Homo sapiens: one gene and its partners. The protein of the gene in region 4 purifies or fractionates together with the protein of the main gene of each other region. This does not show direct contact. Each region holds a gene or a part of one and is shown on either strand. Other genes may lie near its edges.

Region 1 (3,500 bases), on a different chromosome or scaffold from region 4:
TAGCTACCATAGACAGTGATTCCTCTGATGGATCTGGGCAAAGTAAATTGAAAACCTTCTGGAAAGGATTCATCATTCTAGATGCCATTAAGAACATTTGTGATTCATGGGAGATCAAAGTATCAACATGAATAGGAGTTTGAAAGATGATTCCAGCCCTCACAGATGACTTTGAGGGATTCCAGACTTCAATGGAGGAAATAACTGCCGATGTGGTGGAAACAGTAAGAGAACTAGAATTAGAAGGGGAGTCTGAAGATGTGACTCAATTCCTGCAATCTCATAAGAAAACTTTAACTAATGAGAAGTTGTTTCTTATGGACGGGAAAAGAACGTGGTTTCTTGAGATGGAATCTACTCCTGGTGAAGATGCTATGAACACTGTCAAAATGACAACAAAGGATTTAAAATATGACAGAAGCTTAATTGATAAAGCAGGGTTTGAGAGGACTGACTCCAATTTTGAAAGAAGTCATACTGTGGGTAAAATGCTATCAAATAGCATCATGTGCTATAGAGACATCTTTTATGAAAGGGAGAGTCAACTAATGCAGCAAACTTCATTATTATCTTATGAAATTGCGATAGCCACCCCAACCTTCAGTAACTACTACCCTGATTGGTCAGCACCCATCAACATCGTGGCAAGACCCTCTACCAGCAAAAAGACTATGACTTGCTGAAAGCTGAGATGATTGTTAGCATTTTTTAGCAATAAATATTTTTAATTAAGGTATGTATGTTTTTTAGACAATTCTATTACACATTTTATAGACTACAGTATAGTATAAACACAGCTTTTTTTTTTTTTTTTTTTTTTTTTTAAGAAATGGGGTCTCATGCTGTCATCCAGGCTGGAGTGCAGTGGTGCAATCATGACTCACTGCAGCCTCAAACTCCTGAGCTCAAGTGATCCTCCCAAGTAGCTGGGACTACAGGCCTGTGACATCACACCCGGCCAAAACGCATAACTTTTATATGCAATGGGAAACAAAAAAATGTGTGTGACTCACTCTATTGTGATATTCAGTTTACTGCAGTGATATGGAACTAAGCCCACAATATCCCTGCGGTATGGCTGTACAGTATAAGAATCACCTGAAGGGCTTATTAAAAACAGCTTGCTTGACCCCCTCCCTTAGAGATTCCGATTCAGTAGATCTGGGTTGGTCAAGAATTTGCCTTTCTAACAAGCTCCCAGCTGAGGCTGAGGCTGCCATTCAACATACTACCAAGTAGCACTGGCATAGAGAGATCCCTGGAATAAAATGTACCTACTTGTGTGTGTGTGTGTATGAATGTGTGTGTGTGTGTGTGTGTGCGCATGTGCATGTGCGTGTGTGTGTGTGTGTACAGTCTTGCTCTGTTGCCTGGGCTGGAGTGCAGTGGCGTGATCTCGGCTCACCGCAACCTCCGCCTCCCAGCTTTCAAGCGATTCTCCTGCCTTAGCCTCCTGAGTAGCTGGGATTATGGGGTGCGCCACATCGCCTGGCTAGTTTTTGAATTTTCAGTAGAGACTGGATTTCACCATGTTGGCTAGGCTGGTCTTGAACTCCTGGCCTCAAGGGATCCACCTGCCTCAGCCTCCCAAAGTGCTGGGATTACAGGCATGAGCCACCATGCCCAGCCCCTACTTGTATATCACAAAAGTGAGATGATTACTTTTCAACTTTCTTCTTTGTATTTTTTAGGTATTTAAATTTTTTTACAATGAATGTTCCATCTTTACCCAAACAATAAAATCTTTATTGTAAAGAAAGTTAGAAGCAAGAAACATTAACATTTTTTATAACTACAATTTGTATAAAAGCTTTCTCTGTGATCTTTAGTTTTTCTTTCTTCCTCTGAAAAGCTGAATCGTGTTTAATTAAACTCTCAAAAGTATCAAGTTTTTGTCTATAAAATGGCAAAACTGGCTATGATGAAATAAACTGATATTTGCTATTTCTAATAAAAGCATACAATATATTTTTCTTTCTTACCAGATTCAAATATTTAACACCAACATATTAGTCCAAGTCCTATCATCAGTCAGATTTATCAGAAAGGTATGAAAACCCATGCCTACTATAAGGACCAAAATAGCCTAATTCAATACTACTTTGAAAACATGGGGATGATGTTATTATGTAATTGTTTTAAGTACAATAACCACTGATCACATTTGAACTCTCAGGATACTTCAATATTTCTTTTGGACAACTATGACCTGTTGAGTAAATTACCCCCAAATACTTTAATATAGTTTTACAAATCGCCCCAATGCCAGAGACCCAGATCAAAAAAAAAAATAATGGTATGGGTCAGATTCACAGAATAAGCACTAACTTTTATGCAAAATGAAAATAAAGATTTTATCTAAAAGTTATTTGGGGAAAATAAGCAGACTTTATCAAGAATTAGAGCTTGGTAAGAAGGTAACAGAAACCCATTGTTAGAAACAGGTTGACTCTGTGTAGCTTTCCATAGTAGAGTTCAGAGTTTCCTGTCATGATTCCCTTATCAATGCAGTGTAATAACTACTTACACAGCACTTACATTGTATTAGGTATTATAAGTAATCTACAGATGATTTAAAGTATATGGGAGGATGTGCATAGCTTATAGGCAAATACTACACCATTTTATGTAAGGGACTTGAACATTAATAGATTTTGGTATCCTCAGAGATTCCGGAACTAATACCCCATGGATGCCAAGGGACAACTGTACTTAGAGGTAGAACGTCTCTGCTCTTCCTACATGTCCTTATTTTTAACAACTTCTGTTCTTACAAATAATCCTAAGTCAATCAATAAAACTTCAAATTCTATTAACAGCTTAAAAGTACCAAGAAATACTCTGTTCATTCATTCAACTGCCAAAGAAAATGACAACCGAGTACTTTTCCTCTTTTAAACCAAAAAAAGTTTTTGGTTTAATACTAACAAAAGCTTTAATCCTCATTTTAGATATTCCTCTAATACATCTATTTACAATATATCACAGAACTATATTCTGGTTATTAATAATCTCACTTCTTACCAGGGTCTGCTAATCCAGTGGTCTCTAACAGTATGTAATCAAATTTCCCCTTCTTTTGCATCAAATTCTCAATAGCTCTAAGGCCACTGTCCCTGGAGAATACCAAAACATAATTTACAGTTAATTACCTAAATATTTTGAAGTGATTATTATAAACACTTTAAAATATATTCAACAACCCGAGACAAAAGTACCCTTGGGAATGTGAAAATTTAACTCACTTCTAACCTTCTAACAAAATGTCCGTCCCATATTTACCAGTGAGAAAACAATAGATGCATATATATAATAGGTAAAAAGAAATCATATACATAATACTTTATCAAAATTAAAAGCAGAGGAAACTTTATCTGACCAAGTATCTTTTTATAGCTTTATGAAATTTTTAAAAACCAACATACAAAATAATGATAAAATGTATTAACTATAGTAGTTTAATATAATAGCTAAAGAGACACTGATATTAAACACCATAT
Region 2 (3,500 bases), on a different chromosome or scaffold from region 4:
ATTAAATGAAAACAAAAGCAAAGTAAACTGTAGAGTTCTCAGTTTTTTCTTTTCTTTTCTCCTCTTTATCCCATAAAAAAATGAAAATAACTGAGTTCTCCAAACAATGAAAGAAGCCCTACATTTTTTTTTTTAAATAAAGCATAGTTTTGTAAATCATGGCAAAGCCACTTAATGGAATATAAGCAGTCATTTAAAATGAAGATTAGGTAGCAACACAGAAAATGATTATGATATGGTGTCGAAAGAAAGAAACCAAGGACAAAACACAGCAATCCAGCTATGTGCACAGCAAATCCTTGGGGAAAGCACTGGGAGGGAATATGCCAAAATACTCATAGTAGTTGGAGGTGTGTAATGATGGGCTAGAAGGTGACTTTCTTATTTTCTGAATGTTCTGAAAGTATATTACCCTTATAATAAAAAACTTTATTTAATAAAAAAAATTCCCCAAACCACAGCAGGAACAATTAGGTATGACAAGAGTGGGAGTGTTTTTCTTTGTAGGGCTGAGATACACAAAGGAAGCGGGAGAGGGCGGAGCGCCACCAGGAGGCTGCGGGCGTGGAGCGGGGACAAGGAGGGGTCGGCTGTCTGAAGCAGTCAGGCTCAGTCCCAGGGTGGCTGGGCCTGGCGTCGGCCATGGCCACTGCCACCAAGGGCAGACAGGCGGGGCAAGGGCTCTTCTGGGCCATACTTCTGGATCTCCAGGTCAGGGTAGACGGGAGAGATGGGGCGGACTGGAGCTTGCTGGGTGGAGTAGGGCTCGGGAGTCTCTGCACAGGGAGGTCACCTCGTGGCTGTGCCCCAGGACTCTGCCTTGCCTGCTCTTGCACTCAGGAGCATCTTTGGGGGACAGCCCCCCACCCCACCCAAAGTCTCCTCAGTGGGAGGCAAGGCCCCAGGCCCCAGACGAAGAGCAGGCAGTGGTGTCCTGTCCCTTGGGCCCCAGCTCCGGGCTGCCCTACTCCATTTGTCTCTAAGGCAGATTTCCATGTCCCCCTCCCTCCCTGGACCATGTGGCCTGCAGGGGCAGGGCCAACCACACTGGCAGCAGTCACAAAACAACAGACTTTAATGGAAATCATGAAGGAGGGAAGCGGGCGGACCGGGAAGGGGCTGAGTGACATCGCCCATGCCGCTCCCTCCGCCAAGCCTGAGCAGCTCCTGATGCCACCCTCTCCTCACACTCCCCAGATCTTTTGGCAGGAGGGCAGAAGGTTGGAGGCCCCTTGTTCAGCATGCCTGCAGTGAGCCCAGTGAGGATGCGGTGGTAGAAACGGAGCTGGGGCAGTAGAGTGGGCTCAGCGGGAGTGAGCAGCAGGAGGAGGTGTTGTTTAAGCCAGAATGATTCCCAAGTTTCCCCAAGGAAGGGCTGTTTGTCTCCTGGGTCTCGGAGGAGTGGGGATTGGAGGAAGTCAATTGCCCCCAGTGCGGGCCTGGTACCATGAAAAGGGGCACAGGGTGGGGGAGATGCCAGCCTGAGAAGGACAGGTGTGAGCTTGGTGGCACTGTGGTTGTTGGCTTAAGGGGGAGGGGAACAGAGTGCCCTGCTTGTGCCCAGAGTGGTGCTTGTGGGGTTGACCAGAAATCCCCAAGTCCCCTAGCGCCATCCCCTGCTGAAGTTGTGCCTGGGCTGAGCACCTGGTCTACCTGTCCCCACCCCGATCCCAGACACCTAGCATCCCTCTATTTGGCCTCCTGTAATGTCCCCACGGCCACCTTCACTGCTTGGAACACAGCCCAGTCCATCTAGGAAAAAGAGAGAGGACAAAGCATTTTCAACTACATTCCTGGGCCCACCCGCTGTCCCCCACCCTACTTAAAAGGAATACTCTGGCCAGATGCGGTGGCTCACACCTGTAATCCCAGCACTTTGGGAGGCCAAGGTAGGTGGATCATTTGAGGTCAGGAGTTCAAGACCGGTCTGGCCAACATGGTGAAACCCCACGTCTACTAAAAATCCCAAAAAAATTTAACCAGGCATGGTGGTGGGCGCCTGTAGTCCCAGCTACTTGGGAGGCTGAGGCAGGAGAATCACTTGAACCCAGGAGGCGGAGGTTGCAGGGAGCTGAGATAGTGCCACTGCACTCCAGCCTAGGTGACAGAACAAGACTCCATCTCAAAAAACAAAATGAAACAAACTAAACAAAAGGAATACTCTGCCCCTGCACAGGGTGGCTGCCTGCTTGGCACAGGGTGGGATCTGCTATGTCCACTGCAGCTGTGGCACAGGGAGGTGGGAGGCTTGGGTAGCACACCCAGCCTGCTGGCCCACATCCCACTCACCTGGGCATAAAGCAGGTGGCAGTCAGGGGGAAGGCTGGGTCCCTGGTGGCAGAGCTGAGCAGAGAGGGCAGAGGTCTCAGGGGAGAGGAAGTGCTGAGTGACGCTGACTGTGCTCACCAGGCCCTGCACCTGTGTCGGGGGGACATGGACAGTGAGGCTCAAGATCACACATCCTCTCCCTGTCCCCCTGGTCCCTGAGGTTCGCTTCCTCTAATGACAACCACCCCCGACCCCTGGCTCTCAGAGAGCAGATTCCTGGATGCACCACTGGACACCTCAAAGCCTGTGGCCAAAACCGGGACTCAGAACTGCTGGAGAGACCCTAAAGTCTCCCTGCGAGCCCCCTGACATCAGCATGCCCAGGAGACCAGGAGTGGACTCTGGCGCCAGTCCCAGTTGGGCTCAGTGACTTCAAGGCCTCTTGGCTCCCCCGTTATCTCTTCCCCACAGCAGCGTGCGGCTCCCTGCCCTGCCCGGCTCTTGGGTATTGAGGGGATGTTGGATGCCTGCGGCCTTGATTGGGTCGCTTCTGCCATCCTGATCTCCCCGCAGAGCCCCTGCCCGCTGGGAAGCACCTGGTGGGGAGCCCCTGCAGGCACCAGCACGGCCTCTCCGGGGGCCTGGAGCAGGGTCCAGCAGCTCACGCCCCACTCCTCCCGCAGGCGCCGCCGCAGCCCTGCATCCAGGTAGCAGCTGCCTGGGGCGCCAGGCTCCAGGGCGCCTGCCCCGGCCGGGCACACCTCAAAGAAGAGAAGGGGGAATGAGCGAGATGGGGAGGGAAGGGCAGGGCTGCAGGAGGATGGGGCATGGACTTTCCAGAGGCCAGGGGTGGAGAAAAGAGCCGAAGGGTCAAGTCTTGAAGGGCAGGCAGGGAGGGCATGGCTGAGTTTGTTTGGGGCTGGGGCAGCTCAGGTTGGCAGAACACACATTTGGCTGGAAGGAGCTTAGAAGGAAGGGATTCAAGGCCCTACAGTTGGGCAGACTGAATCCCTGCTTTTCTGGGGCTGGAGGCCTTTAACAGCCTCTGTGACCTCGGCCCCTCTCCTCCCTCTCTCAATGGTACCCCTTTCTGCAAATCCGAGGGAGACGTCCTGCATAATCCCAGTTCATAAACTGTCTACCAGGACTTCTTCATCTGAAGTCTTTGGAATGGCCAGAATTGTGTGCTAAGTGGTGGATGAGGAGAGAGCTGTGTGTCCCTGGGGAGACAA
Region 3 (3,500 bases), on a different chromosome or scaffold from region 4:
TCAGAGAAATTAGGTTTCAAATTATCTTGTACTTTACATTAATTTTAAAAAATTACTGAGAAGGACGCAATTTATTTTTGATGATGTTTCACTATCTCCAAAGAATTAGTTGCAACTCAGGCTGTAATAAATTGACTGGAGAACATCCTACATTTGGAGAGAGAAAAAACTATTGGGTAACACCCAGATCACTAATCTGTTTTTTTTCAGTAGTTTCTAAATCATCTAGTTAAAAATTACTACCTGCTGCAAGTTTAGACCTAAATACCCTTATCCTTTGAAGACTGTTGAGGTTGCTTCAGAATTTTTATAGCTCTTTGCAAAATATTATTAGCATGGAATAACTGGGTGCATCCATAGGCTGTTTAACTAATACAGGGTAGCATTGCATTCTTCTTTAAAGGAAATTGTAACATTTAAATTCATTAATTTAATGGCCCAGTTTATTGTTGATTAAATTATCAGAAGCTAAATTAGTTTTATCTCACAACCAGCTGATTGTTTTATTTCACGATGGGCCTGAAATTCTGTAAATATGCTAATTTCCTGTTATGGTGAACATCCTGCTACTCTGCTTTGCACACACTTCATAGTGCTCTCATTCATTTAGCAAATGTTTTGGCATTTAATATATACCAGTCACTAGGCCAGGCACTCTCTCAGCAAATTTTAGTGTTGGAGGTCTCCTATTAAATAATCTCTGGGATGTGTGGGATTTTTAGATCAGATAATTACATTTTTTAAATTTAACTTTATGCTAGAGAAGAAATATTTACTTCTTTATAGCTTTTTTGTCAAAATACTACTCATGTGTTACTGTCGCCTGTGTCCATATTTATAGAAGGCTACCCAGTTATATCTACCCAAGTATGAACCATTTTGGGAATAATCAAAGCCATGTGATCTATTGGCTCTAATGTAAGGTAAGTAGAATAAATAAATCGCTACCCCAAAGTAACTCATGCTTCTGTTTTTCTCTGCCCTTTAAAGTTCCAGAAGCAAAATGTTCAAAGGTTGAATATTTTACAAGCTTGGAACTGAAAGAATGCTACAGTGTGTCAGACCAGCCATGATTCATCCAGCCCAAGCCACAGAACAGTGTAGAGGGAGAATATGGTTATCCTTGAAAATGATGGCCTCAGAAAGCAAGGTGTTATACCAGCTATGAATTAATAACAGTCTAGACTAGAAGGAATTTTGTTTTTTTTTTTAATCTAAAAGGATTCAGGAGGTAGTAGTTGGTTCAGTAGCACAAAGATGAACATATTTGCATTCTTTTGGTTAAGGTTTGCGATTTCCTGGACCTTTCATTTGTCTCTCAAGAGGGCTAATCATCATGTCTGCTTTTCAGGCAGTATATAGAAAAGGATGAGGGCAAAAAGGCTGACTCGCAACTTCCATATGTGCGCGCGTGCACACACACACACACACGCACACACATGGAAATTATAGATATATATTCCCTATCTATCTATCTATCTATCTATCTATATTTGGCTACTCCTGTCTGCAAAGAAGTCTGGGAAATAAAATTTTTCAGTCAGTCCTGTTGCCCAAAGTTCTTTAGTAAGGAAGAAGAGAATGAGTATTGGGTAAGTAGAAGTTAAATAAAAAATTATTCAGTGACACTTGTTAAGGCATGGTAAGGAAGACTATTCAGGACCATCACCATAGATGTAAGGACTACTGTAACGGGGTCCCACAGCTGGGGAGAGAGATTGGGCCCAACTCCAAAGACAGCATGGGCAAGTGAGAATTTACAGCCAAGGAGCAGAGTCAGTGGATAAGAAATTACTAAGAGGAAACATCAGGGGTAAGGGGAAATCTGGAAAAACCAACCTAACAGGATTCTTGCTGAAGGCAGGCCAAGGTGATCAGATACCACCTGGAGGTTGGCTGGGGGTGAAGAACCTGATCAGATATCAGGGATGGGGGCAATTCTTGCTAAACTGACTTAGCAAGGTTCTTTCCTAAAACTGGGTTTTACAAGGAAGTGCATAGATGGACCTAGCAGAAGAATTAAAGCCTGACTAAAGTTTGGCCAAGCAAAGAGTCTTTGTCACAGGCAACTAGCACTCCCTGCCATGAGTGCACGTGCACATACACTCATGCACTCCTCAAAACATTCCTCTCTCCCTGGAGCACATGTGAATGATTATCTATGAATTGATCTTGAGCTTTCCTGTGTATCCTTTCAGGTTATATTTTTTCTTCTGAGTTTTTAGCCCTAGTTAAATCACACAGTCAATTCTCTAGAAATAGGATTGTGCAGTGGAAAGAGCACTGGACTTGGACTGAGGGGACCTGATAAATCTGGTTCCAGTCCTCTGACATCTAAGCTTCCATTTCTTCCTTCAATTAATGGAAATGAATTACCGTCTCTGCCTGTTTTACAGGCTTCTTATAAGATCACATGAGCACTTTTAATGTCTGTAAAAGTGCATTGTAAACAGTGAAGCATTAAACAGTTAAATGTATGGTATTGTTATGATGCCTGTGTTCAAAATCAAGCTACTCATCTTCCCAAAAGAATGAGCTATTGCTCCTGACTTCTCTTATGGCAAGTCACCAAGTCTAGACACCTCAGTCTTTTGGCTACATCTGACTCCCACCCCACATCTCTGGTTGTAATAGCCTTTGATATTATTCTCTTAGTATTTCTTCATCTTCACCATATCTGACTTACTCACTGCCACCCCTGTTGTTCAGGCCTGTATCATACTTATCGCTTGGCTATTGCAATAGCTCTCTGAGTCAACTTCAGGTCCAACTCTCCCTTCCCACCTCATATCTCTACATATTTCTAGACAGCCCTCATTTTTAGTGGATATAGTATACTATGGGATTGCCTTGTCATAATTTAGTAAATATTTTTCTGCTTTGGGGCATCAGGTTGTTTACATTTTTTGTTGTTATAGTGTGGTAGTAGACATTTGTGTGTGTGTATGTGTATGCTGTACATAGCTTATGATTAATTATTTGTTACAGTAAATTCCTTTAACATGAGTTACTGAGATAATGAACAGTTCTTTCATTTTTCCCAGTTGTTTCCCAAAGGATGATTCCAATTTATATCCCATGAAAAACAGAATACTATTTATCATGAATATATTATAGCTTTTCATAGTGTAGGGATCAAAATATGCCACCCCCAAATATGCCACTTTGGTATATTGATTATTTTGGGTAAAAGGCATTGAAAAGGCTGGGCATGGTGGCTCATGCCTGTAGTCCCAGCACTTTGGGAGACCAAGGTGGGTGGATCACAAGGTCAAGAGATTGAGACCATCCTGGCTAACATGGTGAAACCCCATCTCTACTAAAAATATAAAAATTAGCTGGGCATGGTGGTGTGTGCCTGTAGTCCCAGCTACTCAGGAGGCTAAGGCAGGAGAATGGCGTGAACCCGGGAGGCGGAGCTTGCAGTGAGCCGAGATCCCGCCACTGCACTCCAGCCTGGGCGACAGAGCGAGACTCCGTCTCAAAAAAAAAAAAAAAGA
Region 4 (3,500 bases):
TCTTTTGAGCACCTTAAAATGGGGGAAGGCTTGTATCTTCTCTCAACTTCTTTTCAGTAATTCTTTCATCTATATGTTTACTCATTAATTTGATCATTTATTTATTTATTCATTCAGCACTTCCTCTGTGCCAGGCAATGTGTAGTGCCAGTCCCTCCTCTGGTGGAAGAAGAGTAGCTTTACCATATGGTGACATCAGGCATATAGGCTCTCGTGGAAAAAAATTCTAGGATAGTATTTTTTTTTTTTTGAGATGGAATCTCGCTCTATTGCCCAGGCTGGAGTGCAGTGGTGCAGTCTCGGCTCACTCCAAACTCTGCCTCCCAGGTTCAAGCAATTCTCCCACCTCAGCCTCCTGAGTAGATGGGATTACAGGCACACGCCATCACGCCCAGCTAATTTCTATATTTTTAGTAGAGATGGGGTTTCACCACGTGGCCAGACTGGTCTCAAACTTTTTTTTTTTTTTTTTTGAGACGGAGTCTCGCTCTGTCATCCAGGCTGGAGCGCAGTGGCACGATCTCAGCTCACTGCAACCTCTACCTCCCGGGTTCAAGCAATTCTCAGCCTCAGCCTCCCGAGTAGCTGGGATTACAGGCCCCCGGCACCATGCCTGGCTAATTTTTTTTCTTCTTAGTAGAGATGGGGTTTCACCATGTTGGCCAGGCTAGTCTTGAACTCCTGACCTCGTGATCCACCTGCCTTGGCCTCCCAAAGTGCTGTGATTACAGGCGTAAGCCACCGCGCCTGGCCTCAAACTCTTGACTTCAAGGGATCGGCCTGACTTGGCTTCCCAAAGTGCTGGGATTACAAGCATGAGCCACTGCACGGGGCCTAGGATGGTATATTGAGACCAGGGGCCCAGGAAAGCCAAGAGAAGCCTCAAGGACGTGAGAGTGTTTTCTGGCTCTGGGAAGTATGGATCATTTCAGCTCAGTGACTTAGTTCCCACCCCCTTCCCCCCACTGCCTTTTGTGGGAGGGAAGTAGGGCATGATAAGATGAAATGTCATAGATTGATTGATCACTGTTGGCCTCTGGGGCTATGACAAGTCATGGATGGAAACACTAGATCTTTAATCTGTCCTTGGCTTGGCTGCATGACAGTCTTTCTTCAAGTTGGATCACACTTTGGAAGCAGAGTTCATCAATAGGGAGGCATGAGTCCCTTCAAGATGGTATACGGTGCTTATTTGAAACTTGGACACTAAAGTCTGTGGGTCTTAGGAGGGTTCCTTCTATTCTAGTGGTCAATTTCCATGGAACTTCATCACCTTTGCTCAGGGCTCTGGGGTGAGTTAACCCAAGTCTTCACTCTTTGAAAGAAATTGTAGATTTAAAAACTCTGAAGACACATAATACTGCCTTCTCTGGGCCCTTCAGTCATTTTTGTATACATTGGTACTGGTCTCAAAGTACTTCCATATCACTCATGTCTCTGTCCCCAGGTAAGATCTTAAATGTAACCCTTCCTACAAGAAGAACAGAACAGAACACTGCTTCCAAACCACACATGTTCCTTTGGTCCTCCCCTCTACACAAACGCCATGTGTTGGGAAAGCAGGGTGAGACTGAATCTCTCTGGAGAAAAGAGAGATTCAGCACCAAGCTTTTGATCAAAAGCATAATCCCCCCCTAAAAAAAGTGCCTATTGGAGCAAAATCAGGAAAACCAAAGGCAGAGAACAGATAAAACCAAAAGGCCTTTTGTAGCCTGAGGAGAGAGCATGGAAAGGGCAGGAGGGGAACAGCCTCACCCATTTTGCCTTGGGGATGGTGAAGGTGGGCATTGGGGGATTCCAACTTCAAAGCATGGATGACTTCTAAGTCCTTTTCAGCCCTGAGCTCTTAGATTCTGAGCCTGTTTAATCCCTTGCTGATAGATTCACTCTTCCTTTTTCACCCCTACCACCAGTATCCCAGAGCCTCCATGAGCAGCTGGCCCCAGTAGATGCCACAAAAGTGTTTGTTACGAGAAGGACACCGTCCTGATTCTCTTCTCTGTCCAGAATCACCAAGAGGACTTTTCCCATTCCAGCAAGAAAACGTCTGTGTGTTGATCTAGAGGCGTTTAGAGACTTTAGGTGGCAACCTAGTCTCTCTTTTTCCCTTTATCCTTCCTACCCTTCATTCTTCTTTTATCCTTTTATTCATCAGAACACAAGAGTTGAGCATTTATGCTGTCCCAGGTACTGTGCTTGAAGGAGTTAACAACTGAGGTGGCTATTAGTCAGAGACTGACCAGCATGTGCTCACCACCCATGTTAACTAGGCAGCCCACCAAACCCACCACCATTTTTTTTTGACTTCTATAGGTATTTAAGTTTGACACCATATCTGAGAAAACATCTGATCAGATCCACTTCTTCTTTGCCAAACTGAACTGCCGACTCTATCGAAAAGCCAACAAATCCTCCAAGTTAGTATCAGCCAATCGCCTTTTTGGAGACAAATCCCTTACCTTCAATGAGACCTACCAGGACATCAGTGAGTTGGTATATGGAGCCAAGCTCCAGCCCCTGGACTTCAAGGTGAGTTGCAGATGTTACCCCTGACCTCCGAGTTCTTCCTCTCCACTCAGAGATTGAGGAGGTGGAGAAACAGCATCCAAATTCACACTGCTTTGCTGCTGAAGACTGCTGGAGGGCTGACTAAAAGTTAGAACCCCTGCAATAGTTATTCTTACTTGAAACCTGAGAAATCAAAGGTATCCATGCTTGGATTGTAGTGACTGCCCAGAAAACATGAATTAATAATCAATTCTTCATTCCATCCACCAACTTCAAATATATACCAAAGGGTGTTTTGAAGATGCCAGTTCTACAAGATATCTTACTTAATTTGAACTGTTATCATGGTCAAATAAAGTTGGTACATGATGCATGTTACATTCTCCTCTTGGAGATTCATGAAGCACATGGGCCTATGAAGGTTCTGAGAAACTCTGCAACAAAGAAATCTGTTGGCTTTATTCAATCGGCATTCCTCAAATGTATTTGACTGCATGGGCATTTCTCTCCTCCATATAACCTGCCAACCCCATATAACCTGCCAACCCCATATAACCTGCAATCATTCATTGCTTCCCCTGGCACATGCCTTGGAAATTCTACTTTTGTGAGTTAAGGTTTTCCAAAGTCAGAGAAAATAATATTTTATCTTCTTTTTCCCAGACTATTTTCGCCTTCCTTCTTTTCATTTATTTCTTCCTATTTCTTTTTGTTCTTTTTCTTCTGATAATATTTATTAACTACAGGAAAGATTCATGGAACTATATTAGATATGTGAGGCTTCCCCAATTTGGGTTAGAGCAATGGCTTCTTAATCAAATGGTGGGAAAGGACAGAGGGATGGTGAGAAAAATAAAATGCTGCCTGGGAAAATGGAGAAGCCAATTGAATAGCACAGGTGAGTAGGTTTATTTTCTGTTCTCCTCAGGAAAATGCAGAGCAATCCAGAGCGGCCATCAACAAATGGGTGTCCAATAAGACCGAAGGCCGAA

Evidence for each region. Proteins that work in one complex are often made in the same cells at the same time.
Region 1: the proteins of SERPINC1 (region 4) and ZNG1A purify together in Homo sapiens (affinity purification with mass spectrometry; one large-scale study listed by BioGRID and IntAct). This does not show direct contact.
Region 2: the proteins of SERPINC1 (region 4) and HR purify together in Homo sapiens (affinity purification with mass spectrometry; one large-scale study listed by BioGRID and IntAct). This does not show direct contact.
Region 3: the proteins of SERPINC1 (region 4) and HSPBAP1 purify together in Homo sapiens (affinity purification with mass spectrometry; one large-scale study listed by BioGRID and IntAct). This does not show direct contact.

Annotation. Positions count from the first base shown.
Region 1 is NC_000009.12:169,057-172,556, forward strand, and holds part of ZNG1A (zinc-regulated GTPase metalloprotein activator 1A), read right to left. Parts: exon of another isoform or gene 3,433-3,500; intron 3,117-3,432; coding exon 3,025-3,116; intron 1-3,024. UniProt on the Homo sapiens protein: Zinc chaperone that directly transfers zinc cofactor to target metalloproteins, thereby activating them.
Region 2 is NC_000008.11:22,114,011-22,117,510, forward strand, and holds the end of HR (lysine-specific demethylase hairless), read right to left. Parts: intron 3,030-3,500; coding exon 2,865-3,029; intron 2,419-2,864; coding exon 2,290-2,418; intron 1,753-2,289; coding exon 1,690-1,752; 3' UTR 409-1,689; downstream 1-408. UniProt on the Homo sapiens protein: Histone demethylase that specifically demethylates both mono- and dimethylated 'Lys-9' of histone H3. May act as a transcription regulator controlling hair biology (via targeting of collagens), neural activity, and cell cycle.
Region 3 is NC_000003.12:122,783,832-122,787,331, reverse strand, and holds part of HSPBAP1 (HSPB1-associated protein 1), read left to right. Parts: exon of another isoform or gene 1-923; intron 924-3,500. UniProt on the Homo sapiens protein: May play a role in cellular stress response.
Region 4 is NC_000001.11:173,910,828-173,914,327, reverse strand, and holds part of SERPINC1 (antithrombin-III isoform 1 precursor), read left to right. Parts: intron 1-2,313; coding exon 2,314-2,529; intron 2,530-3,436; coding exon 3,437-3,500. UniProt on the Homo sapiens protein: Most important serine protease inhibitor in plasma that regulates the blood coagulation cascade. AT-III inhibits thrombin, matriptase-3/TMPRSS7, as well as factors IXa, Xa and XIa. Its inhibitory activity is greatly enhanced in the presence of heparin.